7 linked regions of the Homo sapiens genome follow. The protein of the gene in region 7 purifies or fractionates together with the protein of the main gene of each other region. This does not show direct contact. Each region holds a gene or a part of one and is shown on either strand. Other genes may lie near its edges. The genes, in order: KCTD9, FBLIM1, EVPL, ACP6, CLIC4, FAIM and NADK2.

Region 1 (3,500 bases), on a different chromosome or scaffold from region 7:
ATGGTAAATTGTTTTTGATACTTTATTAGGATTGATTAAAGTGGCAATAAAAGTTGAATTCAAATACACAAATACTTGTGTATTTATTGTGTATTATGTAATAAATCTTGTGGGTATAAAAGAAAAAAATATTTTACATGCATGTGCAGGTTTTAATTTTTAAATTTAAATAATACAGGTTACAATTTGAAAATGGTGTTTAAAGGTAAATTAAAACTAGCCAATCGTACTAGGCATGGTGTTCCATTTACTCTCCAACTCATAGGCAGCTTTCACTTGTCATGGGATCTGAAATTTAAAAATAATTGACTCTGAAAAGTAGTATAATACAGACATCATGAACTTTAATAGACATGCTTCTCAATAAATGTAAAATGCTTCTATTCTTAGGGCCTAAGTTGTTAAGGTAGATAATCCCAGTGACATGGAAACATCAGGCCACATGGTGGAGATAACACATACAAAGTAAATGACCTTTGTAAGCACTATCATTTTATGATTTATTTGGCTCAGTATGAGGACAAAAACAATCTTAGTATATACTAACTGGAGCTTATGTCCATGATATACAAGATTTTTATTGCTCCTCTTTCTCAAAAGAGTTATATAAAGAAGAATGCATGTGCCAGTCTGTTTGCAACTTTCTCCGTAACTTAATCATCTTTTCCATATGTATGACAAATTTATGTTGATATATATATTTTAAAACCTGGTTTCTAATTAGTTTAAAATACAGAGTTTTTGCATATTTGAATATTAGTATTGCAACATAACTCCTTTTTATTTGTATGGTATTGTTAGTATGTGCGAATGATTAGTTGGAAAACAAACGTCAAGAATAGCCCTCCAAGTGAAAACAAGTATATTGGCCCAACTTAAGGGAAATTTTCAAATTTCTAGAACTATAAGATTCTTCGTATTAATTTTAATTCTGTTTTCTCTAATTGACCACCCTTTGGTTATTTCACTTAAAGGAAATTGTTAACTGCCTGATTGCAAACTGCTAAAATAATTTTATTTATAGAACTAGTATCTGGAGCTATGGAGACCTTAAAATAAATTAAAACTTCCCCCCTTATTACAAAAGTAATATAGGTTCATTGTAACAAATTTGGAAAACAAACAAAATAAAGCAAAAAACTTAGCAGGGTGTGGTGGCTCATGCCTGTAATCCCAGCACTTGGGAGGCTGAGGCGGTTGGATCACGAGGTCAAGAGATTGACACCCTCCTGGCCAACATGGTGAAACCCCGTCTCTACTAAAAATACAAAAATTAGCTGGGCGTGGTGGCACGGTTTTACCATGTTGGCCAGGCTGGTCTTGAACTCCTGACCTCAGGTGATCCACCCACCTTGGCCTCCCAAAAAGTGCCGGCATTACAGGCTTGAGCCACCATGCCCAGACTGCTTTAGAATTGCATTTATACTGTGTATTTTTTTACCCTAATGACAGTGTAAGAGACTTAAATGAATATGACTGTCACACAAAAAAGGTGTGTCCTACTTCAACACTCAACATTCAAGAAATATTTGTCAAAGACCTGCTGTAAGCCAGGTAATGTACCATTTGAACCTATGGCGGTTATTAGTAGAACAGCTCAGGAATGTACTTCTTTAGTGCTGCTTATCAGCTTTACCAAGGGATAATTGGTCACCTCTATTCACAGAATTCATAACAACTTTTTGCAAATTAATTTTTTTTATTGGACCTTTAGGATCCAGGCAGACAGCCAGATTAGAAAATATTTAGTGATACGGTAAATTGTTTTTGATACCTTATTAGGATTGATTTAAGTGGCAATAAAAGTTGAATTCAATTTATACCTAGACTGTGCTCCTTAGTAGTTTTACAGCCTACAAGGAAATACCTGTTGTACTTTGATTGCCTTGAAAATAGTCCTTGCCAAGCAGTATGTGTGGTTTTTTTCTATCATCTGGTCACATTTGACTTCAGTGGGGAAGAAACAGAAGATGGCAACATCCCAACCCTCTAAATAAAACAACAAACAGGTCTTGAGTTGTATTTCATCAGTTTGTTACTTTGGGTTCCTATGTCATGGGAAAGCCTAATAGAATTAAAATAGTTGTGTTTTTTTTTCTTCATTTTTTTTTTTCTGCTCTTTAAAATGGCACTGTCTAATAGAACTACTGAGATGATGGAAATTTGTGCTATTCAATATGGTAACAATTAGCCAGTGTGGCAGTTGAGCACTTGAAATGTGGCTAGTGTGACTGAACTGCATTTTAACTTTTAATTTTAATAGATTAAAATTTAAATAGACTCATGAAGCTAGTGGCTTCCACACTGGACAGCACAGCTTTAAAACATGGCAGGTGGCCTTTATTTTCATCGGAAGACAATAGACCCACAGAAAAACCAAGTCAATCATATGGAAGTAGACGACAATTCAAGTTAGTGTATTTTGAATAAGTCATATAAGATCTTAAGCTATAATATTACATTAAGTATTAAGCATAATACAGGCAGGTGCATTCAACTTGCATCTATTTTTTGGTATGGCCAAGAGAGAACAGTGAAAGAGATGCTGAGAGAGAAAGTTGATGTTAGGGCAAGGAGGGGATATCAGGCAAAAGAAAGCCATACTGAGATGTAAGAGCCAGAGGTAAATAAGAGGGAAAAGAAAGATTTAGAAAATTCTTTGTATGATGGCAACTATGCCAAGAACATTGAATTGGGAAAGAGGTGCTTGTGCTTCTTACCCTCTTTTCACAGCACCTTCTGACTGCAGGAGTTGTTTTGCATCTGCTTTGGTCAATCTCTTGCTCCTTTGCATGTTTGCTTCTCTCTTCTCTGTCTTTACTCTCTTCATGCTCTTTGCCTTAACACAACCCCAGCTTTGCCGTGTGCAATGCCCTAGGTACTGTATTTCGCTTCGCTTTGTCCCAGGAATGTGTATAATGCAATTACAGAATACCTCACTGTGTTGCAGAGGTGAACAATCATAGGAAATATGGGGGACATGTTTTAGTCAGGCTTTTTTTTCTTTTTTTTTTTCTTGGAGAAGGAGTCTCACTTTGTCGCCCAGGCTGGAGTGTGGTGGTGTGATCTCAGCTAACTGCAACCTCTGCCTCCCGGGTTGAAGCAATTCTCCTGCCTCAGCCTCCCAAGTAGCTGGGACTACAGGCACACGCCACCACGCCCGGCTAATTTTTTGTATTTTAGTAGAGATGGGGTTTCACTGTGTTGCCCAAGCTGGTCTCGAACTCCTGAGCTTAAGCAATCCATCCGCCTCAGCCTCCCATAGTGCAGATTTTACAGGCGTGAGCCACCGCGCCCAGCCCTACTCAGGCTTTAATTATTTATGGCAAGCCTGCTGTGTGTAGGACACTGTGCCAAGTGCTTTGCAGTATTTTTTTTATTGTGATAAAAGATGGAACAAAATTTATTATTTTAACCATTTTTTAAATGTGTAATTCATTGACATTGTTTACATTCACAATGTGTGTAACCATCACCACGGTTTATTTCCAGTACTTGGT
Region 2 (3,500 bases), on a different chromosome or scaffold from region 7:
GCCCTTTCCTCCCCACCTCTGCCTCTGACGTGGTCTTCCCCAAAGTCCCCTCAGCTCTTACCTCCATTGAAGAGCTGCATAGGTGCAGCCGGCACTGTGGCTGCAGCTCTGCCAGGGGTTGTCCAGGGGCTGGGCCTCCCCGCCAAGCCAGCCTCGGGTGTCTTCATGGGGGCAGGAGCCTCCCAGGGGCGGCCACGCCGGGCCTCACAAACTGCCTGCCTCACTTCCTCCGCCACGGCCACATCGCGGCGCGGGGGTGCCAGGGTGATAAAGACAGACGATGCCACCCTCTTCTCAGGCTTTGAGGCCATGGCTTCAGCTCCTGGTGTGGCTAGGGACAGAGTGGGGTACAGCACAGGATTGCCACCCAGACACACAGCCACCCTCCCCCGAGAGGAGAGAGCCTCCCTCCTCCCAAAAAGACAGGCCAGCCACCCTACCATCTCAACAACTCAGTCCAGCACCCAGCCCAGCCAGAGAAGGGGTGGGGGTGTCCTGCTGGGGAAGACAGGACCCACCAGGGAACTTGGCCACAGGGGTGAGACCCAAAAGTCCTGACTGCCCCTCCCCCGAACCTGCACACCTAGGGGAGCAAAGGGCAGCCCTCACCAATGATCACTCTTCCTTGTCTCACACCCGCGAGGAAGGAACAGATGCTTCAGCTCCCAGCCCCAGCAGGGCTGACTTCCGTTCCCAGTCTGGAGTCCCGCCTGCCTGCTGGGCCACACCCCAAGTGACCTCCCTCACCTGGGATCAGATTCTCCTAGAAGGGCTGAAGTCCTGGAGGTTCAGGCCAGCTCTGCTTTGGGAGGGAAAGAGAACAGATCAGGATCTGCCAGGGCGTCAGGGCTAGGCTCCGGCGGCAGAGTGGGCAGGGCACAGTGAGAGCTGCCCTCACCAAGACCGGCTCTGCCCTGAGCATGTTATACTCATTAACTCATAAACACTCACACGTTATGCTCATTAACTCATAAACACTCACAAGGTGGCTGCAGGGCAGGCACTATCATCACCCACCTAACACATCAAGAAATCGAGACTCAGAGAGAAGTCACCTGTCCAGGGTCACACGGTGGTGAGGTGGCACTGGAACCCAGAGCCCATGCTCTTGGCCACTTTGCTCTGCTCTGACCTTTCTCAGCCCTGCACATGAGCCAGCACCCTCCTTGCTTGCTTTCTAGTGCCAGACTCTCTCACTCCACCCAATCTCCAAAACCTGGGTCCTGGTTCAGGCCTGGGCAGTGGGCAGGGGGCAAGGGGAGAGATGGGGAGGCTCCATGGCCTCTGGTCTCACCTCCTAACCCTGATCTTTCTAGAGCATCAATCTCTTTCTCCTTTACTCAAAAACCTTCCATGGGCCGGGCATGGTGGCTCACAGCTGTAATCCCAGCATTTTGGGAGGCCGAGGCAGGTGGATCACTTGAGGCCAGGAGTTTGAGACCACCCTGCCAACATGGTGAAACCCCATCTCTACTAAAAATACAAAAATTAGCCATGCGTGGTGGTGGGCACCTGTAATCCCAGCTACTTGGGAGGGTGAGGCAGGAGAATCGCTTGAACCTGGGAGGCCGAGGTTGTGGTGAGCCAAGATTGCACCACTGCCCTCCAGTCTGGGCAACAGAGCGAGACTCTGTCTTTTTTTATTTATTTTTATTTTTTGAGACGGAATCTTGCTCTGTTGCCCAGGCCGGAGTGCAGTGGCACGATCTTGGCTCACTGCAAGCTCCACTTCCCAGGTTCACGCCATTCTCCTGCCTCAGCCTCCCGAGTAGCTGGGACTACAGGTGCCCGCCACCACGCCCGGCTAATTTTGTTTTTGTATTTTTAGTAGTGATGGGGTTTCACCATGTTAACCAGGATGGTCTTGATCTCCTGACCTCGTGATCCGCCCACCTCAGCCTCCCAAAGTGCTGGGATTACAGGCGTGAGCCATCGCACCCCGGTGAGACTCTGTCCCAGCACTTTGGGAGGCAGAGGCAGGTGGATCACCTGAGGTCTGGAGTTCGAGACCAGCCTGGCCAACATGGTAAAACCCCATCTCTACTAAAAATACAAAAATTAGCTGGGTGTGCTGGCGGGCGCCTGTAATCCCAGCTACTTGGGAGGCTGAGGCAGGAGAATCACTTGAACCCGTGGGAGTGGAGGTTGCAGTGAGGTGAGATGGCACCATTGCACTCTAGCCTGGGCAACAAGAGCGAAACTCTGTCTAAAAAAAAAAAAAGAAAAAAAGTATGGCTCTCCACCACCTCAGGATGAAGTCCAACTGCGGCAGCCTCAGCCTCTTTGAGCCCCTGGACCACTCGCCCTTCCTATGTCCTCTCTCTTGCCTTGCAGTGTTTCTTCTATGGTTTTCCTGTCCTGCCCCCACAGGGTGAATTTCAGCTTTCTCTTAGAGGCCCAGCTCAAACATCACCTCTTCCACAAGGCACCCCCCGATTCCTGGCCCTCTCCAGGGGCAGTTTCCTGCTGCCAAGGGTGGACGAAAGCGATGATAGCCCCAGGGCAGGACAGGCTGGCTCACAAGCTCACTATCAATGCGTCTGACCGGTGTCTGCATTCTTTGTGTGCCTAGAGGATATCAGAGCGCAGGCATCAAAACCCAGATCTGGCCACCCGATGGCTCACGCCTGTAATCACAGCACTTTGGGAGGTAGGCGATCACTTGAGGTCAGGAGTTCAAGACCATCCTGGCCAACATGGTGAAACACTGTCTCTACTAAAAATACAAAAATTTGGCCTGGCGTGGAGGCTTATGCCTGTAATCTTAGCATTTTTGGAGGGCAAGGTGGTTGGATCACGAGGTAAGGAGTTCAAGACCAGCCTGGCCAAGATGGTGAAACCCTGTCTCTACTAAAAATACAAAAATTAGCTGGGCATGGTGGCAGACGCCTGTTATCTCAGCTACTCGGGAGGCTGAGACAGAGAATTGCTTGAACCCGGGAGGCGGAGGTTGCAGTAAGCCGAGATTGCACCACCACACTCCAGCCTGGGCAACAGAGCAAGAGTCTGTCTCAAAAAAAAAAAAAAAAAAAAACAAATTAGCCAGAAATGGTGGCATGCACCTGTAGTCCCCAGCTACTTAGGAGGCTGAGGCAGGAGAATCGCTTGAATCCTGGGAGGCGAGGTTGCAGTGAGCTGAGATTGTGCCACTGCACTCCAGCCGAGGTGACAGAGTGAAACTCTGTCTCGAAAAAAAAAAAAAGAAAAGCATAAATCAGAGAGCATGGTGGCACCCTGATACCCTGATGTCAGGAAAAGGACATTATTTCCCATCTCTCAGGTAGTTCCTGCTGACAGTAGTCCCTGTGGCCAAGGCTGAGGTGGGGCCATGGGTGGGAAAGCTGGGAGTCCAGTGAGCACATCAGTCCTCAGCAGGCACCCAATGCCTGTGCCCAGGGCTAAAAATGTCCCCTTTTCTATCTCGCTCTTCAGGCTTCCCTCCTTATCTCAAAGTGCACTGGCCACTTTGGGTTCACAGCGACTGATGGATGATAATAAAA
Region 3 (3,962 bases), on a different chromosome or scaffold from region 7:
TCGCTGTCTCAGGTCTACCCTGTTGCCCAGGGTAGAGTGCAGTGGCATGATCTCTGCTCACTGGAACGTCCGCCTCCCAGGTTCAAGTGATTCTCCTGCCTCAGCCTCCTGAGTAGCGGGAATTTTAGGTGTGCACCACCACACCCAGCTAATTTTTGTATTTTTAGTAGAGTCGGGGTTTCACCGTGTTCGTCAGGCTGGTCTCGAACTCCTGACCTCGGATCCACCCGCCTTGGCCCCCCTAAATGCTGGTATTACAGGTGTGAGCCACTGTGCCCGGCCTCCTTTAGTGATTTTAAACCATAATCTCTTTCCATGACCTGCCACTGCATCCCTGCCCCGCACTCAAGGAGGCACAGCCCTCCGAGGATGCCTGTTTCCCAGGCAGGCAAATTGAGCACGTCCGCCCAGGCAAGGACTTGAGCAACGCTGTCCTTGCACTCATCCCCCAGACACATGGGTCCTGCACTCTCAAATGTGAATGAATGGGACACCACATGGCACGGGGAGACAGAATTCGTTTATTGGGATCACTGGGTGGAGGTGGAGGAAGAACTGAGTGGCTGCTGTCCTGGTCTGGGGATGGATCAGGCACCAAGGTTAGGGGAGGGAGCCCATCACCATGTTAGTAAAATAATAAAACAGTGGTTGGACAGAGGGAAGACCCACTGCCTGGGATGAGGCTGCTCTGAGGCAAGAGGTGTACGTATCCTACCTGGCCCAACACACGCACTTCCCCACTGGCTCCTTGGCCCGTGTCAGCGAAGGGAGCGCGGGACGGTGGGGGAGGCGGAGCGGTAGCAGCGGTACCCCTCCAGTGCCGCTGGCAGGAGCAGCAGGCCGCTCAGGGGGTCTTTGCGGCAGCGGCCCATGGCCTCCTTGTAGCTCAGCCGTTCCTTGGAGATGGGGTCTGTCAAATCCTTCTCGTAGCTGGACTCGTCCTGCAGGAGCTGGGCCAGCTCTTCACTGATCATCCCGGAGAGGAGGGCCTGCTGGATGGGGATGCGGCCTGTCCTCTTGGGGTCGATGAGCCCCCCGGTCAGGTGCTGCACCTGCAGGTGTGGGAGCACGCTCTCCCGGGGCATCCAGCCCTTCTGGACGGCCTCGCCCACCGAGAGCCTCTTCTTGGTGACGGGGTCCTCGATGCCGGTGAAGGCCTTCTGGGCGTTAAGCAGCCTCTGTGTGGAGGTGTTCTCGATCAGGCCCCTCTCCATCGCCTTGTGCACAGAGTAGCGCTCACGGCTGAGCAGGTCCACGATGCCCCCTGTGGCCGCCTGGGCCTCCAGTAGCTTCTGCCCAGTGATGGGGTCCAGCATGTTCTTGGCCACGGCCGTCTTGATGCTGCACTTGTTGTCTGTGGTTGTGTCATAGATCCCGGCGATAGGGAAGCTGTCATCACCGAGCCCGAGAGAGAAGCTGGGAGAGAAGAAACTGGTGCTCTGGGGGGCCGGGGAGGCGAGCGGGGACTTGGAGATGATAGAGCCGATGGAGAGTGAGGAGCTTGGCTTGGTCTCCCCAGCTACAAGCAGCGCAAACTCGGAGATGGGCAGGTGGCCGTCCTTGTACAGATGGTACTCCTCCTTAGAGATGCGCCGGCAGCGGAGGGCGGCCTCGATGGAGTACTGCTTCCCGCTCTTGCGGTCCAGGAGCACAGACTCCTCCCCACAGGGCCCCGAGGTGGTGACCTCCTCCCAGTCACACTCGAGCTCCTGCAGCTGCAAGTACTGGCCCCTGTCGATGATGCCCCTCTTGTAGGCCTCGTATGGGGACATGTCCTTCCCCGTCTCGGGTTCCAGGATGGAGATCTTGGTGGAAAGGTTGGTCTCTCGCGTCTGGGTCTCCTGGCTGAGCTCCTCCCGGCTCACCTTGGCGTGGAGGTCCCGGAGCGTCCGCTCCTTCTCGTAGATCTGGTCCTTCTCGCGGAGGATGGCCGCCTCCAGCCGCGAGAGCTCCTGGCCCCGCTGGGCCGCCTTCTGTCGCTCGCTCTCCGTCTTCTGGCTGAGCAGCTTCGACTCCTCCTGCAGCTGCAGTGTCTGCTGCTGCTTCTGCCTCTCCAGAGCCCGCAGCTCCTGCTGCAGCCGCCCACACTCCTGGTCGGCCTGGTCCCGGGCCCTCTGCAGCTCGGACTCCTCCCGGGACCAGGTTCTCCCCAGCGTCTCGGCCCGGTCAATGCGCTCCCGCAGGCGCCGTGCCTCCTCCTCCCGGGCCTGCCGGGCCGTGCGCTCCCTGTTGAGCATCTCCCACACGCGGGCCCGCTCATCTTCCAGGACGCGGTCCTTCTGCACCCGGATCACTTCCTTGTAGATGGTCTTCTCCTGCGATTTGGCTTTCTGGAGGACGTCAATCTGGACCTGCAGGTTCTTGCACTCCCGATTCAGCTCGGTTACCTGGGTCTTCTCCTGGTCCAGGTCCCACCGCAGGGCTTCCGTGGACTTCTCCAGGTCCGGGTCCTTCTCCAGCTTGACCACTTCCTCCATGATGATCTTCTCCTGCACCGTGGGAGGCCGCTTCTCGAGCTCCTGGATCCTCAAGGTCAGCTGCCGCAGCTCCCTCTCCACGGCCAGCTTCTTGCTGCGGTCCTCCTGGAAGCTGAGCAGGCCCTCCTGCTCCTCCACGCCGGCCCGCAGCTGCTGCACCTCAAGCTCTAGCTGGCGCCGCCGGCCCACCTCCTCATCCAGGCTCCCGCTCAGCCGGCTGTGCTCCTCGCGCAGCTTCGGGTCCTTCTGGGTGACCACCACCTCCTGCACCACCACCTTCTCCTCGGGCTTCCTCCTCTCCAGCAGCAGGCGCTTGCTCTGCAGCTCGTACACCGCGTCCTCCGCGGCCCGCCTCTTCTGGGCCGCCTCCCGCACCTCCTGGCGGAGCCGCTCTGCTTCTTTCTCCAGCACCGGGTCCTTCTCGTGGCGCACCACCTCCTTGCTCACCGTCTTGGTCTCCACCTTGGCCCGCTCGCGCCTCCACTCGTCGCGCTCACCCTGCAGGCGGATGAGCTGCTCCTGGGAGCGCCCGTGGCTGTTGACGAGCTCGTTGAGCTGAGCCTTCAGGCGGTCGATCTCACGCAGCACCTCGGGGCTCCTCTCATGCCTCACCACCTCCTGGGTCACCTCCTTGTACTCCACCGTGGGCTTCTGGGCCCGCAGGACCTCCAGGTCGGGCAGCAGCTTCTCCACCTCCTTCTCCACACCGCTCCTCTTGCCCGCCATCTCCTGCAGCTTGGCCTTGAGCCGAGTGATCTCCTGCTCTGTCTCCGGATCCACCTGGAAGATCTCGTGGACGCGCTCCTGGAGCTGCACTTTGGGCCTCTGCTTCTCCACCACGCTGTACTTGCTGTGCAGGTCGCTCAGCTCCCTGGCCAGCGTCGCGTTCTTGGTCCTCTCCTCCTCGAGGAGGCTCCTCAGCCTGGAGGACTCCTGGAGGAGCCCTGGGTCCTGCTCCACCTTCTTCACCTCCTTCACGATGACCTTGGGCTCCACCGAGCTGATAGCCCGCTCCAGGTCTTCGATGCGAGCCTGTAGCTTGGCCACAGCCTCCTCCGCCTGCTTCCTCCGCGCAGCATCCTCCTCCATCTGCAGCCTCAGAGCCTGGGCTGCCTTGACCATTTCCAGATTCTTCTCCACCTTGACTACCTCTTTCACCACGACCTTCTCCTTCACGTCCACCTCCCTCTTCTCAAGGGCCAGTAGCTCCTTCTTCAGCCCTTCCAGCCGGGCCGAGATGACGGCATCCTCCCCGCGGAGCTGCTGGATCTGGATCCTGAGCTGGGCCGCCTGGCTGTCCAGGCCGGGGTCCCTCTCCACCTGGGTGACCTCCTTGGTCAGCAGATGAGGCTGCATGGTCTTCCTCTTGCTTTCCAGCTGCACGACCTTCTGGGCTGCCACTTCCAGGTCTGCCTGCAGGCCAGCCCGCCGCTTGCCCTCCTCCTCCACCTGGGCCTTCACCCTGGACAGGCTGCCCTCCAGCTG
Region 4 (3,500 bases), on a different chromosome or scaffold from region 7:
AACCTCAAACCTTTGGCTCCCTGTGGATCCACTATCCCCACACCAAGCCCTGTTGATCACTGCCTAGAAGAAAAGTCCCTCCCAATGGTCCTTCCATTATCTTATTGTAGAATGTAAACCTTATTAGTGCCTGTGACAAACTCCTCCCTTTCACCTGCACAATCCATCTATCCATAGCCAACTAATTAATCTTTTTGGAAAAAATATTTTTATTGCATTTAAATATTTTGTTTTATTTTTAATTGACAAATAATTGTATATTGTATATATTTATGGAGTACAATGTGATGTTTTCATATATATTTACATTTGATATATGATTAACTAATGTAAACAAAATCCATCAGCTCACATACTTTCATTTTTACGTGATGAAAATATGTAAAGTTAACCTTTTAGTAACATAGGCATACATCATTTTATTGCTCTTTACAGAGATTGCATTTTTCACAAATTGAAGGTTTGGAGAACTCTGCATTGAGCAAGTCTATCAGTGCCATTTTTCCAACAGCATGTGCTCATTCATGTCTCTGTGTAAAATCTGGTAATTCTCATAATATTCCAAACTTTTTCATTACTATTAAATCTGTCAAGGTGATCTATGATTTATGATTTGTTTTTCTTTTTGAAATGGGGTCTGGCTCTGTTGCCCAGGCTGGAGTACAGTGGCATGATCTTGGCTCACTGAAACGTCTGCCTCCTGGAGTGCAGTGGCATTACCTTGGCTCATCCTCTCACCTCAGCCTCCCGAGCAGCTGGGACTACAGGCATATACCATCATGCCCAGCTAATTTTTTTTTTTTGAGAGACAGGGTTTTGCCATGTTTCCCAGGCTGATCCTGAACTCTGTGATCTTTGATGTTACTATTTTAACTATTTGGGAGCGCCACAAACCGCCCCCATATAAGATGCCAAACTTAATCAATAAATGTTGTGTGTTTTCTGAGTGCTCTGCTGACTGGTATTTCCCCCATCTCTCTCCCTCTCCTTGAGCCTCCTTATTTCCTGAGACACAACAATATTAAAATTAGTCCAGTTAATAACCCTACAATGGCCTCTAAGTGTTAAGTGAAAGGAAAAGTTTCAAGTTTCTCACTTTAAATCCAAAGCTAGAAATGATTAAGCTTAGTAAGGAAGGCATGTAGAAAGCTAAGATAAGCCAAAACCTATGCCTCTTGCACCAAACAGCCAAGTTATGAATGCAAAGGAAAAGTTCTTGGAGGAAATTAAAAGTACTACTCTGGTGAACACACAAACAATGAGAAAGTGAAACAACCTTATTGATAACATGGAGATATTCAATGCAGAAGAAACAGCCTATATAGGAAGAAGATCCCAGCTAAGACTTTCATAGCTAGAGAGAAAGTCAATGCCTGGCTTCAAAGCTTCAAAGGACAGGCTGATTCTCATTAGGGATTAATGCAGCTGGTTTCCTTAAGGTGAAGCCAAGGCTCATTTACTATTCTGCAAATCCTACAGCCCTTAAGAATTATGCTAAATGTACTCTGACTGTGCTGTATAAATGGAACAACAAAGCCTGCATGGCAGGACATCTGTTTACAGCATGGTCTACTTAATATTTTAAGCCCACTGTTGAGACCTACTGCTCAAAAGAAAAAATTGATTCCTTTCCAAATATTACTGCTCATTGACAATGCACCTAGTCACCCAAAGGCGCTAATGGAGATGTACAAAATTAATATTGTTTTTGTGCCTGCTAACACAATGTCCTTTCTGCAGCCCATGGCCCAAGGAGTAATTTTGACTTTCAAGTCTTTATTATTTAAGAAATACATTTTGTAAGGCTATTGTTGCCCTAGATAGTGATTCCTCTGATGAATCTGGGCAAAGTAAATTGAAAACCTTATGGAAAGAATTCACCATTCTAGATGTCATTAAGAACATTTATAAGGAGGAGGTCAAAATAGCAACATTAAGCGAAGTTTGGAAGATTTGACTCCAACCCTCATGGATGACTTTGAAGATTCAGGCTTCCGTGGAAGAAGTAACTGCAGATGTGATGGAAATAGCAAGAGAACTAGAATTAGATGTGGAACCTTAAGTTCTGACTGAATTGCTGCAATCTCATGATAAAACTTGAATGCATGAGAAGTTACTACAAAGAAGTGGTTCCTTGAGAGGGAATCTAGTCCTGGTGAAGATAGTGTGAACACTGTTGAAATTACAACAATGGATTTATTACATAAACTTAATTGATAAAGCAGTGGCAGAGTTTGAGAAGATTGACTCCAATTTCAAAAGATGTTCTATTGTGGGTAAAATGCTATTAAACTGTGTCATAAGCTACAGAGAAATCTTTCATGAAAGGAAGAGTCTATCAATGTGGCAAACTTTACTGTTGTCTTATTTTTAGAAATTGCCACAGCCACCCCAACCTTTAGCAACTACTACCCTGATCAGTCAGCAGCCATCAACATCAAGGCAAGACCCTCCACTGGCAAAAAGATCATGACTCACTGAAGGCTCAGGTAATCACTAGCACTTTTTAGGAATAAAACATTTTTAAATTAAGGTATGTACATTTTTAGACATGCTATTGCATGATAGGATACAGAAGAGTGTAAACACAACTTTTATATGCACTGGGAAACAAAAAACAACTGTGGGTCTCACTTTATTGCGATATTTGCTTTATTGTGGTGGTCTAGACCTGAATCTGCAATATCTTCAAGGTATGCTTGTCTGTGTAGAATCTAAAGAAGTCAAAGTCACAGAATTAGAGAGTAGAGTGATGGTTATCAGAGGTGGGGGGGTGCAGTAAATGGGGAAAGAGAGATTTTTATCAATGGGTACAAAATTTCAGTTACACAGGAAGAATAAGCTTTAGTGATCTATTGTACAGGATGGTGACTACAATAAATAATAATGCATTGTATGTTTCAAAATCACCTAATTAATCTTGCTAAGCCAGTGTCATCATATCAGTAACTTTTTCCTAATGTCTCAGAGGAAAGCATCTGTCCTTCAAGAACTTCTACATCGTGGCTGAGTGCAGTGGCTCATACCTGTAATCCTAGCACTTTGGGAGGCTGAGGTGGGAGCATCACTTGAGGCCAGGAGTTCAAGATCAGCCTGGGCAACACAGCAAGACCCCATCTCTTAAAAAAATTTTAAAAAAGGACTTCTACCCCCTTTGTCCAGCCCCTGTACTCAGCTTCACTGCCTCTTTCCTCCCCTCCAACCTAGAACCTGCCCACTGTTTCTGCATCTTCTTCCAGCTTGCTTCTCTTGCTTGGAGGGACTCCTGTTCCTATCTGCCCATCACCTTGTCTTCAATGTTCAAGGATAGCTCAAGTCTTACTTCCCTATCACTGACCACTCTGGCTTTTGATGGTTATCTTTTAAATCTGAATTCCTATAACATTGATAACAAAAAAAATTTAACTCAATTTCCTACTACTTTGTTTAGTTTTAAAACTAACATTTGGAAACCTACTATGTCACATATCGTCATATTTATCTTCTACCCTCCCCGAACT
Region 5 (3,500 bases), on a different chromosome or scaffold from region 7:
TTTTTTTTTTGAGACAGAGTCTCACTGTCGCCCAGGCTGGAGTGCAGTGGTGTGATCTTAGCTCACTGCAACCTCCGCCTCCCGGGTTCAAGAGATTCTCCTGCCTCAGCCTCCTGAGTAGCTGGGATTACAGGCGTGCACCATCATGCCTAGCTAATTTTTGTATTTTTAGTAGAGATGGGGCCAGGAGTGGTAGCTCACGCCTGTAATCCCAGTACTTTGGGAGGCCGAGGCGGGCAGATCATGAGGTCAGGAGTTCAAGACAAGCCTGACCAACATGGTGAAACCCCATCTCTACTAAAAATACAAAAATTTAGTTTTTATAGAGATGAGGACTCACTATTTTGCCCAGCCTATAATTTTTTTTTTTTTTTTGAGACGGAGTCTTACTCTGTCGTCCAGGCTGGAGTGTAGTAACACAATCTCAGCTCACTGCAACCTCCGCCTCCCAGGTTAAAGCAATTCTCCTGCCTCAGCCTCCCGAGTAGCTGGGATTACAGGCGCCCACCACCACGCCCAGCTAATTTTTGTATTTTTAGTAGAGACAGGGATTCACCATGTTGGCCAGGCTGGCCTTGAACTCCTGACCTCAGGCGATCCACCCACCTCGGTCTCCCAAAGTGCTGGGATTACAGGTGTGAGCCATGGCAGTGGGCCTATCATTGTTATTTCTTATTTCTTATACCAATATCTGGAACTGACCACTGAGAGATAAGAGGCAAGTCTCGAAATAGACAATATAATTAAAAGCCATGAGAAAATTCACTAGCTGATGCCCTAAATTACATTTACATGTCTTAAATCATCCTTGGACAATAGGTAACCATGACCTAATGTCATTTTCCTTCAGAAAGTCCCTTTCCATTCTCTATGCAAGCGTCTAAAACAGGCAAACCCATCCTAGCTTACTCCTCTACTTGACCAAAATCTTAACTCATGCCTTAATCACACTTCCCATCCTGCCTAACACATTTTCCTTTTATGGACTCACAATTCCCTACTCAGGGGACATCAGAACACGGAGGCTCCACAGCTCTAACGAAACAGGAAGCGGAAAAGGATGGCTCACCATCCTTACTTACTGGCTTCTAGGCACCTCTGCAGGCATCTTCCCAAACCAACTGTGACATTTCCTGACAGCCAGGTTCTTCTCCCAATTGCCTCTTTCCTATCATTATTCATACTCTGTTAAGCTTTTCGTGTGCTCAGTCTCCTAGGCTCAAAGCCTCCTGCCTCTTCCCCATTCTAGGCTCCTTTCTCACAGGTTTTTACATTAAACCAAAATCATCAAATTTGGCCTTTGCCAAAAGTAGCATTATTAGGTCTTCAGGAACAGCTCAGGCAAAAAGTTAAAATAATAGGTTTTCATTAACTTCATACTTTACATTCATTTCTGTCTCCTGAATTTTCCCCCCGGAAACCTCAAATGAATGGCAAATCAATTAGATTCAAGGTAATATTGTCTGAATATTGAGTTAGCTTTTGTTAATTACCAGAACAGTTTTCAGCATCATTTCCTATAGAAAATTTATTTCATTTTTTTCTGTTAGAAAAAACAAAGACGGGGGGAAGTTTGAAGCCTGTCCTTGAAACAATATAAAGAATTCCCACTTTAAACTGTCAAAACAGTCCATCTGTACAATCCATTTGCACCTTCCCAAGTGCCACTGAAAAGTTATTAAACAGACAGCAATCCAAAAACACAGGAAAGTGTGGGGAGAATGAAAAAAGTTAGGAAAATGTATACATTAACAAAAACCCAAGTTAGGTTTTAAAAGTCTCATCCTCAACTTTTAAATAACTTGTCTCCCTGGCACTATAGATCTGAATCACTCCTGGTTCCTTCTTAGGTATCAATCTACCAATTGTTTCCTGCATAAGGAGTTTCCACATAATGTCAAAACTCACATTCCCATTCTTGGCTATTCCGAACCCACCTATTCACCTCCTTTTTCAAGGTCAAGTTTAAGCCTCCTTCCATCTTTCCCCATGTCTCCTAGCCCTACTTAATGTGAGCCCCACTTGACTCTTTAAGCATGGACCATCTTGTATTGTTTTCTTTCCAATAAAATTTGTAAACCTAAAGAAATTAACTGTTTAATAATTTCTTATATCTTCCATAGTACTTAACTCAGTATTAGCACTTAGTTCATGCCGGTACATTCTTTAAGTCATAGTTAATAATAACTAGAAGAGACCTTTGTGATCATCTAGCCCAAGCCCTTCTTTTATACCTTGCTTATATAAAGTATTCTTGACTCTAAGAATTCCACTATTTACTTCTTTTAGAACAGTGGTTCTTAGCCTTGGTTTAGGAATTTCCAGAAAAAAAGCCTCACATTAGAATTTTTTACTGTAATTTCAAGGATTTACAGAACTCCCTGATCCTACTAATAGAGCCCACATTTAAAAATAATATACTATTAGGCTGGGCGCGGTGGCTCACGCCTGTAATCCCAGCACTTCGGGAGGCCAAGGCGGGCAGATCATGGGGTCAGGAGATCGAGACCATCCTGACCAACACGGTGAAACCCCATCTCTACTAAAAATACAAAAATTAGCTGAGCATGGTGGCACGCGCCTGTAGTCCCAGCTACTCCAGAGGCTGAGGCAGAAGAATCGCTTGAACCCGGGAAGCAGAGGTTGCAGTGAGCCAAGATTGCACCACTGCATTCCAGTCTGGCGACAGAGCGAGACTCCGTCTCAAAAAAAAATAATAATAATAAACTATTATCGATGACAAAAGCAGGTGTTTACTATGTGTCAAGCACTCTTCCTAAAGCTTTACATAGGATGGTATACGGTTAGACCACACTTGCCAGCCTCTCTTGCAGATGAAGCTATGTGATTAAGTTCTCTCCAATAGAATGTGACCGGAAGTAACAGGTAGAACTTCTGAGCTGGGGCCCTTAAGATGTGCTTCCTCCATATTTTCCACCCCCCACTGGCAACAGACAGTACTTGTCACCCACCAACTTTGACAATTCAGAAGAGGACAATGCTCTGGGAGTTAGTGGACAAATAAGCTAGAAAGAGCCCGGGTCCCTTAATGACTCTGAGGAGGAAAGCCACCCTAACATCTAAGACATTCTCCTGGACTGAGGGGTGAGAAATAAACTTCCATCATATTTGAACCACTGTTTGTGGGGGGATAACTTATTACAGCAACTTAAACTACCCTAACTAATATGCACAGATTAACAGTTTTAATCCCCTCAGTAACCATATAAAATTGCTATTATTATTATCCTGATATTAGAAGTTAGGAAACTGAAGCACTGAGAGCTTAAAAACTTGCCTGACATACTAGAAGCCAGATTCAAGTCAAGCAGTGTGGCTCCAGAGTCCAAGCACATTAGGAACCTCTGCCAAATATCTCAAAAGAAACAGACTCTTATGTGTTATGCCACCCTGCACCAGATTAACTTTTTACAAACACCACCCCAATCCCAGCAGCTTGGTGACTACTTGCTGACAGTGATCATCCCAGTTCACAGTGG
Region 6 (3,500 bases), on a different chromosome or scaffold from region 7:
AAGATGGTGCAAAAGAGATACGTGTTTGGTAGGAACCATACTTTGAGTACCCATACAACCATTCACTTTCACTACAGTACAAAAAATTACAGGAGACAGCCAAGACTTCATTGTAACATAGGCTTTGTGTTAGATGATTTTGCCCAAATGTGGGCTAAGGTAAGTATTCTGAGGACACTTAAGGTAGGCAAGGCTAAGACATGATGTTTGATAGGTTAGGTGTACTAAATCCATTTTCAACTTATAATATTTTCAACTTGCAATGGGTTTATTGGGATATAACCCCATCACAAGTCAAGAAGCATCTGTACATGTTTTTGTTTTTGTTTTGAGACAGGGTCTTGTTCTGCTGCCCAGGCTGGAGTGCAATGGTATATTCAATGCTCACTGCAGCCTCAACCTCCTGGGCCCAAAGGATCCTCCCACCTTAGCCTCCAAAGTAGCTGGGACTACAGGTACACACCACCACACCCGGCTCATTTTTGTATTTATGGTAGATATGAGGTTTCACCATGTTACCTAGGCTGGTCTTGAATTTGTGGGCTCAAGTAATCCACCTGACTTGGCCTCCCAAGGTGCTGAGATTACAGGCATGAGTCACCGCACCTGGTCGTACATGTCTTTTAAATTTTTCTATGGTTTTGTATGATTTGCAGCAGCTATGCTCTATTTGTTTTCTCAAGGGGAGATGTACCTTCACAACAAAAGTTTTCTTATGATAAATGTCCAGGCTTCAGTTTTTCCATTCAACATTTGAACCTGCTATCAAGAGATACTGTACTAGACGCTGTCAGAAATTTGAAGAAAATCCTTCTTTTTTTTTGTTTTTTGAGATAGGGTCTCACTCTAGTCATCCAGGCTGGAGTGCAGTGGTGCGATCTCAATTCACTGCAGCCTCGACCTCCTGGGCTCAAACAATCCTCCCACCTCAGCCTCCTTAGTAGCTGGGACCATAGGCATGTGCCACAACACCCAGCTAATTTTGTAATTTTTTGTGAAGATGAGGTTTCACCATGTTGCCCCAGCTGGTCTCAAACTCCTGAACTCAAGTGATCCTCCCACCTCGGCCACCCAAAGTGCTGGGATTACAGGCATAAGCCACCATGCCCAGCCTGAAGAAAATGTTTCTGTCCTTAAAGAATTTGAGAGTTCAGAAATAAATCCACATATCTGTGGCCAAATGATTTTTGACAAGGGTGCCAACTCTAACTGGTGGGGAAAGAATAGTCTCTTCAACAGATGTTATGGGGAAAACTAGATTTTCATACACAAGAGAATTAAGTTGAACCTCACCTATCTCACACCATATACAAAAGTTATCTCAATGATCTAAATGTAAGAGCTAAAACCACAAAACTCTTAGAAGAAAACATAGAGGTAAATCCTCATGATCTTGGATTTGGCAATGGATTCTTAGATAGGACACCAAAAGGATAGCAGCAAAAGAAAAAAATAGATAAATTGAACTTCATCAAAAGTTAAAACTGACTGGGTGTGGTGGCTCACACCCGCATTCCCAGCAATTTGGGAGGCCAAGGTGGGAGGATTGCTTGAGCCCAGGAGTTCAAGACCAGCCTGGGCAACATAGGGAGACCCCATCTCTACAAAAAAATTTAAAAACTAGCCAGGCATGGTGGTGCATGCCTGTAGTCCCAGCTACATGGGAGGCTGAAGTGGGAGGATCACTTAAGCCTGAGAGGTCAAGGCTGCAGGTGAGCTGTGATTGCACCACTGCACTCCACCCTTGGCAACAGAATAGACCCTGTCTCAAAAAAACAAAAACAAACTAAAATTTTTGTGCATCAAAGGACATTATCTAGAAAGTGAAAGGACAAGGATGAGAGAAAATATTTGGAAATCATATATCTGATAGAGGTTTCATATTCTGAATATATAAAGAACTCTACTGCTCATAAACACAAAAGACAACCCAATTTAAAAATGGGAAAGGGGCCGGGCGCAGTGGCTCACACCTGTAATCCCAGCAATTTGGGAGGCTGAGGCGGGTGGATCACCTGAGGTCAGGAGTCCGAGACCAGCCTGGCCAACATGGTGAAACCCCATTTCTACTAAAAATACAAAAAATTAGCCGAGTGTGGTGGCAGGCACCTGTAATCCCAGCTAGCTACTCGGGAGGCTGAGGCAGGAGAATCGCTTGAACCCAGGAGGCGGAGGCTGCAGTAAACCAAGATCATGCCATTGCACTCCAGCCTGGGCAACAAGAGCAAAAGCCTGTTTCCAGGAAAAAAAAAAAAAAAAGGCAAAGGACTTCCACAGACATTATTCTAAAGAAGACATACAAATGGTCAATAAGCACATGAAAAGATGCTAAACAACATTAATCACGACAGAAATGCAAATCAAAACAACAATGAAATACAACTTCACATCTACTAGGATGGCTATACTAAAAATAAACAGAAAATAATCAGTGTTGGCAAGGATGTGGAAAAACTGGAATCCTTGTACATTGCTAGTGGGACTGTAAAATGGTGAAGTTGTCATACAAAATGATATGACAGTTCCTCAAAACCTAAACAGAGAATTACTATATGACCTAGCAATTCTGCTGCTAGGAATGCACTCAAAAAGTTTTGAAATCAGCCACTCAGACACCTGTATACTATTGTTCATTGTAGCATTTTCCAATAGCCAAAAGATGAAAACAACCCAAGTTGTCCATCAACATAAGAATAAACAAAACGCGGTACATACACTTGATCTCGGCCAAAAGGCTGAGAAGTGATAAAATGCATATATATACAAAGGATATTCCTTTTCATTCAGCCAAAATAAGGAGTGATATTCTGACATATGCTATAACATGGATGAACTATGAAAACTTTATGCTAAGTGAAATAGCCAGACAAGGCCGGGCGCGGTGACTCACGCCTGTAATCCCAGCACTTTGGGAGGCCGAGGCGGGCGGATCACGAGGTCAGGAGTTCGAGACCATCCTGGCTAACACGGTGAAACCCCGTCTCTACTAAAACTACAAAAAAATTAGCCAGGCGTGGTGGCGGGCGCCTGTAGTCCCAGCTACTCAAGAGGCCGAGGCAGGAGAATGGCGTGAACCCGGGAGGCGGAGCTTGCAGTGAGCTGAGATCGCACCACTGCACTCCAGCCTGGGTGACAGAGCGAGACTCCGTCTCAAAAAAAAAAAAAAAAAAAAAATAGCCAGACAAAAAATGACAAATATGATTCCACTTATATAAAATACCCAGAAAAGGGACATTCGTAGAGGCAGAAAGCAGATTAGATGTTCCCTGGGAATGGGGGAAGGGAACAATGAGAAGTCTCAGTCTCTTTCATGCTGCTACAAAGGAATACCCGAGGTTGCATAATTTATAAAGAAAAAAGGTTTATTTAGCTCATGATTCTGATGTCTGGAGAAGCTCAAGATTGGGCATCTGCATTTGGTGAGGGCCTCAAGTTGCTTCTACTCATGGCAGAAGGCAAAGGAGAGCTGGCTGTGTAGAGAGCATGTGACCAGAGAGAAA
Region 7 (2,419 bases):
GCAGTTCTGGGTGAAATACAGATAGCAAAACAAATCATGATGCTGTTACAAATGTATTAGTTATCCAATAAGTGTTTTAAGTCAATTTTTTTAAAATGATATGAGTCTTACAGGTTTCTTCCATCTTTAAAATGCTCAAACATGGATTCAGGGACTAAAAGGATGAACTGATTAGACATTTTCTATTAGGAGTTTGGTAAAATATTGTAAAAATATCTTCACCTGTGTTAGGAGTATTATCAGAAAGAATGGATTCTTTAATAAATATGTAAAACACAGTAGTTTTGGAATTGCCTTCCTTAGTATTGTGGTTTTCACCTAGCTTATATTCCAAGATTTACAGAATAGCTTTTAGGATAAGATGTTAGGACTTTTTTTTTTTCCCCATGAGAATTCCTTTATTTTTGGAGGAAATTATTATCTAATTATTGATCTACTTATAAGTAATCCTAGAATTTTTGCCAAAAGATCCTGTCGTTGCATAATCAAACAGTTGGTATTCTCGTGCCGTTGTTCAAAGTCATGTGTTTCTTTCATTTGGTGCTGAAAATTTCTGTTCAATCATTGACAAATATTTATTGAACACCCACTCTGTGCCATGTAAAACTATGTCAGGTGCTGGATATGTTGATGAATGAAACAGACTCTATCCTTATACAATTTGAGTCTTGTGGGCTCAGAAGTAAATTCTGTGAAAGCTGGACGGATAGTCGAATTGAGTGCTCTTAGTTTTGCCAATATTTAACATGTTGTTCTTATCAATTTTTTAAAATAAATGTTAATGTACAAAGTTAATCTAGGTTTTGATGTATATCCAGAGAATCAATTTTTCTTAAAGTATCTGCGTAGACATTCATAGCAAAGAATTTATGACATATCAGATAGAAATACATTAAAATGTAGTGTTTTCCCAGAGATTGATCTGGCTTTTTTTTTTTGATATACATAAGATACCACTTTATAAAGAAGCTCCATACTATAGAACCTCCCCTAACAGGCTTAAAATACCTTCTTTTTTTTTTTTTTTTTTTTTGAGAACGGAGTCTTGCTTTGTCACCCAGGCTGGACTGCAGTGGCATGATCTCGGCTCTGCAACCTCCATCTCCCAGGTTCAAGCGATTCTCCTGCCTCAGCCTCCCAAGTAGCTGGGATTACAGGCAGGCACCACTATGCCTGGCTAATTTTTTGTATTTTTAGTAGATATGGGGATTCACCATGTTGGTCAGGCTGGTCTCGAACTCCTGACCTTGTGATCTGCCTGCCTCGGCCTCCCAGTATTGGGATTACAGGCATGAGCCACCATGCCCGGCCTTAAAATGCCTTCTTAAAGGAAAAATGCCAACTCCATCCTTAATCTCAAGGAAATCTGATTGTCCAAATAGATCTGTTAATATGTAACATATTAATAGGTAACTTGCTGTGTAAAATTATAAGCCATATTTTAAAAGGTTTTAAAAATACTTATTGTGCTCCATTTGTGATATAATTTCTAACATTTCTGCTCTGTGATGGGGGTTTATTTGTAAGAATAAGAGGCAAAGGAATGTTAGCATAGCAAAAATGTGTTTGAATGAGTTAACCTTTTAATCGCAACCCTATGTGAATAAAATTACTCCACTGTTACCTCTTCTTTTTAACATTTCTTATTTCCCTCTCAAGGGGTCATTATTTGAAAACTAGTTTTCACAAAATGTTATGTTTCAGAAGTGTTTCCCCACTGCTGTGTATTATTATTCTGTGCCCTGTTGACTTCATTCACTGTTAACATTTGACATAGAATGATTAGTTATTAAATCAGGGTGAAGTGCTTACCTGGTCAGTGTAGGCTCTTCAGATAATTTTGACTTAATATTTTTGATACTCCTTGTGCATTTACATTCATGGCCCCTGTACATTAAATCATATTACATGTTTTACTACATTGATTTCACTTTTTAATAAGCAGAAAGAGAGCCAGGTAACACATTTTTATTGTAAAATATCCACTTGAGTTGAAAAAGTTGTCAAATACAAGTTTAAGGATACGTTATATATTTTGCTTAGTTGTGAAAATAATGTACATTTAGAATTTAAATCACTTAAATTCATTCCATTGTACCAATATTATTTATGCATCCTTATACTTAAGAATAGCATCTACTAAGACAATTATGCAGAAAAGATCCCAGGGATAATGCAACACCTAAATATAATGGTGGGGGAGATAAGAGTAAATGTACTAATGAGTTGTCTAACTAAAGAATAGTTCAATTTTATTTTTTCAAAGGCATTTTATTCTTGACTTTAACATTAAAAGTACTCAAGGGATTGGGGCATAAGTCAGTGAGAAGGCTTATTAAGTTTTCTACATTAAGGTATGAAGAGTTTTTAAGTCTTACGGGCTTTAAGACTTTTTTTAAAGAAAATCACTGACTACATG

What was found.
Region 1: the proteins of NADK2 (region 7) and KCTD9 fractionate together in Homo sapiens (co-fractionation; one large-scale study listed by BioGRID). This does not show direct contact.
Region 2: the proteins of NADK2 (region 7) and FBLIM1 fractionate together in Homo sapiens (co-fractionation; one large-scale study listed by BioGRID). This does not show direct contact.
Region 3: the proteins of NADK2 (region 7) and EVPL fractionate together in Homo sapiens (co-fractionation; one large-scale study listed by BioGRID). This does not show direct contact.
Region 4: the proteins of NADK2 (region 7) and ACP6 fractionate together in Homo sapiens (co-fractionation; one large-scale study listed by BioGRID). This does not show direct contact.
Region 5: the proteins of NADK2 (region 7) and CLIC4 fractionate together in Homo sapiens (co-fractionation; one large-scale study listed by BioGRID). This does not show direct contact.
Region 6: the proteins of NADK2 (region 7) and FAIM fractionate together in Homo sapiens (co-fractionation; one large-scale study listed by BioGRID). This does not show direct contact.

The regions. Positions count from the first base shown.
Region 1 is NC_000008.11:25,448,434-25,451,933, reverse strand, and holds part of KCTD9 (BTB/POZ domain-containing protein KCTD9), read left to right. Parts: intron 1-1,452; exon of another isoform or gene 1,453-1,554; intron 1,555-2,263; exon of another isoform or gene 2,264-2,411; intron 2,412-3,500. UniProt on the Homo sapiens protein: Substrate-specific adapter of a BCR (BTB-CUL3-RBX1) E3 ubiquitin-protein ligase complex, which mediates the ubiquitination of target proteins, leading to their degradation by the proteasome.
Region 2 is NC_000001.11:15,761,795-15,765,294, reverse strand, and holds part of FBLIM1 (filamin-binding LIM protein 1), read right to left. Parts: intron 803-3,500; exon of another isoform or gene 800-802; 5' UTR 610-799; intron 332-609; 5' UTR 312-331; coding exon 62-311; intron 1-61. UniProt on the Homo sapiens protein: Serves as an anchoring site for cell-ECM adhesion proteins and filamin-containing actin filaments. Is implicated in cell shape modulation (spreading) and motility.
Region 3 is NC_000017.11:76,006,345-76,010,306, forward strand, and holds the end of EVPL (envoplakin), read right to left. Parts: coding exon 759-3,962; 3' UTR 501-758; downstream 1-500. UniProt on the Homo sapiens protein: Component of the cornified envelope of keratinocytes. May link the cornified envelope to desmosomes and intermediate filaments.
Region 4 is NC_000001.11:147,660,525-147,664,024, forward strand, and holds part of ACP6 (lysophosphatidic acid phosphatase type 6), read right to left. Parts: intron 1-3,500. UniProt on the Homo sapiens protein: Hydrolyzes lysophosphatidic acid (LPA) containing a medium length fatty acid chain to the corresponding monoacylglycerol.
Region 5 is NC_000001.11:24,751,947-24,755,446, reverse strand, and holds part of CLIC4 (chloride intracellular channel protein 4), read right to left. Parts: intron 1-3,500. UniProt on the Homo sapiens protein: In the soluble state, catalyzes glutaredoxin-like thiol disulfide exchange reactions with reduced glutathione as electron donor. Can insert into membranes and form voltage-dependent multi-ion conductive channels.
Region 6 is NC_000003.12:138,611,771-138,615,270, reverse strand, and holds part of FAIM (fas apoptotic inhibitory molecule 1), read right to left. Parts: intron 1-3,500. UniProt on the Homo sapiens protein: Plays a role as an inducible effector molecule that mediates Fas resistance produced by surface Ig engagement in B cells.
Region 7 is NC_000005.10:36,192,089-36,194,507, reverse strand, and holds the end of NADK2 (NAD kinase 2, mitochondrial), read left to right. Parts: 3' UTR 1-1,808; coding exon of another isoform or gene 1,809-1,887; 3' UTR 1,888-1,919; downstream 1,920-2,419. UniProt on the Homo sapiens protein: Mitochondrial NAD(+) kinase that phosphorylates NAD(+) to yield NADP(+). Can use both ATP or inorganic polyphosphate as the phosphoryl donor.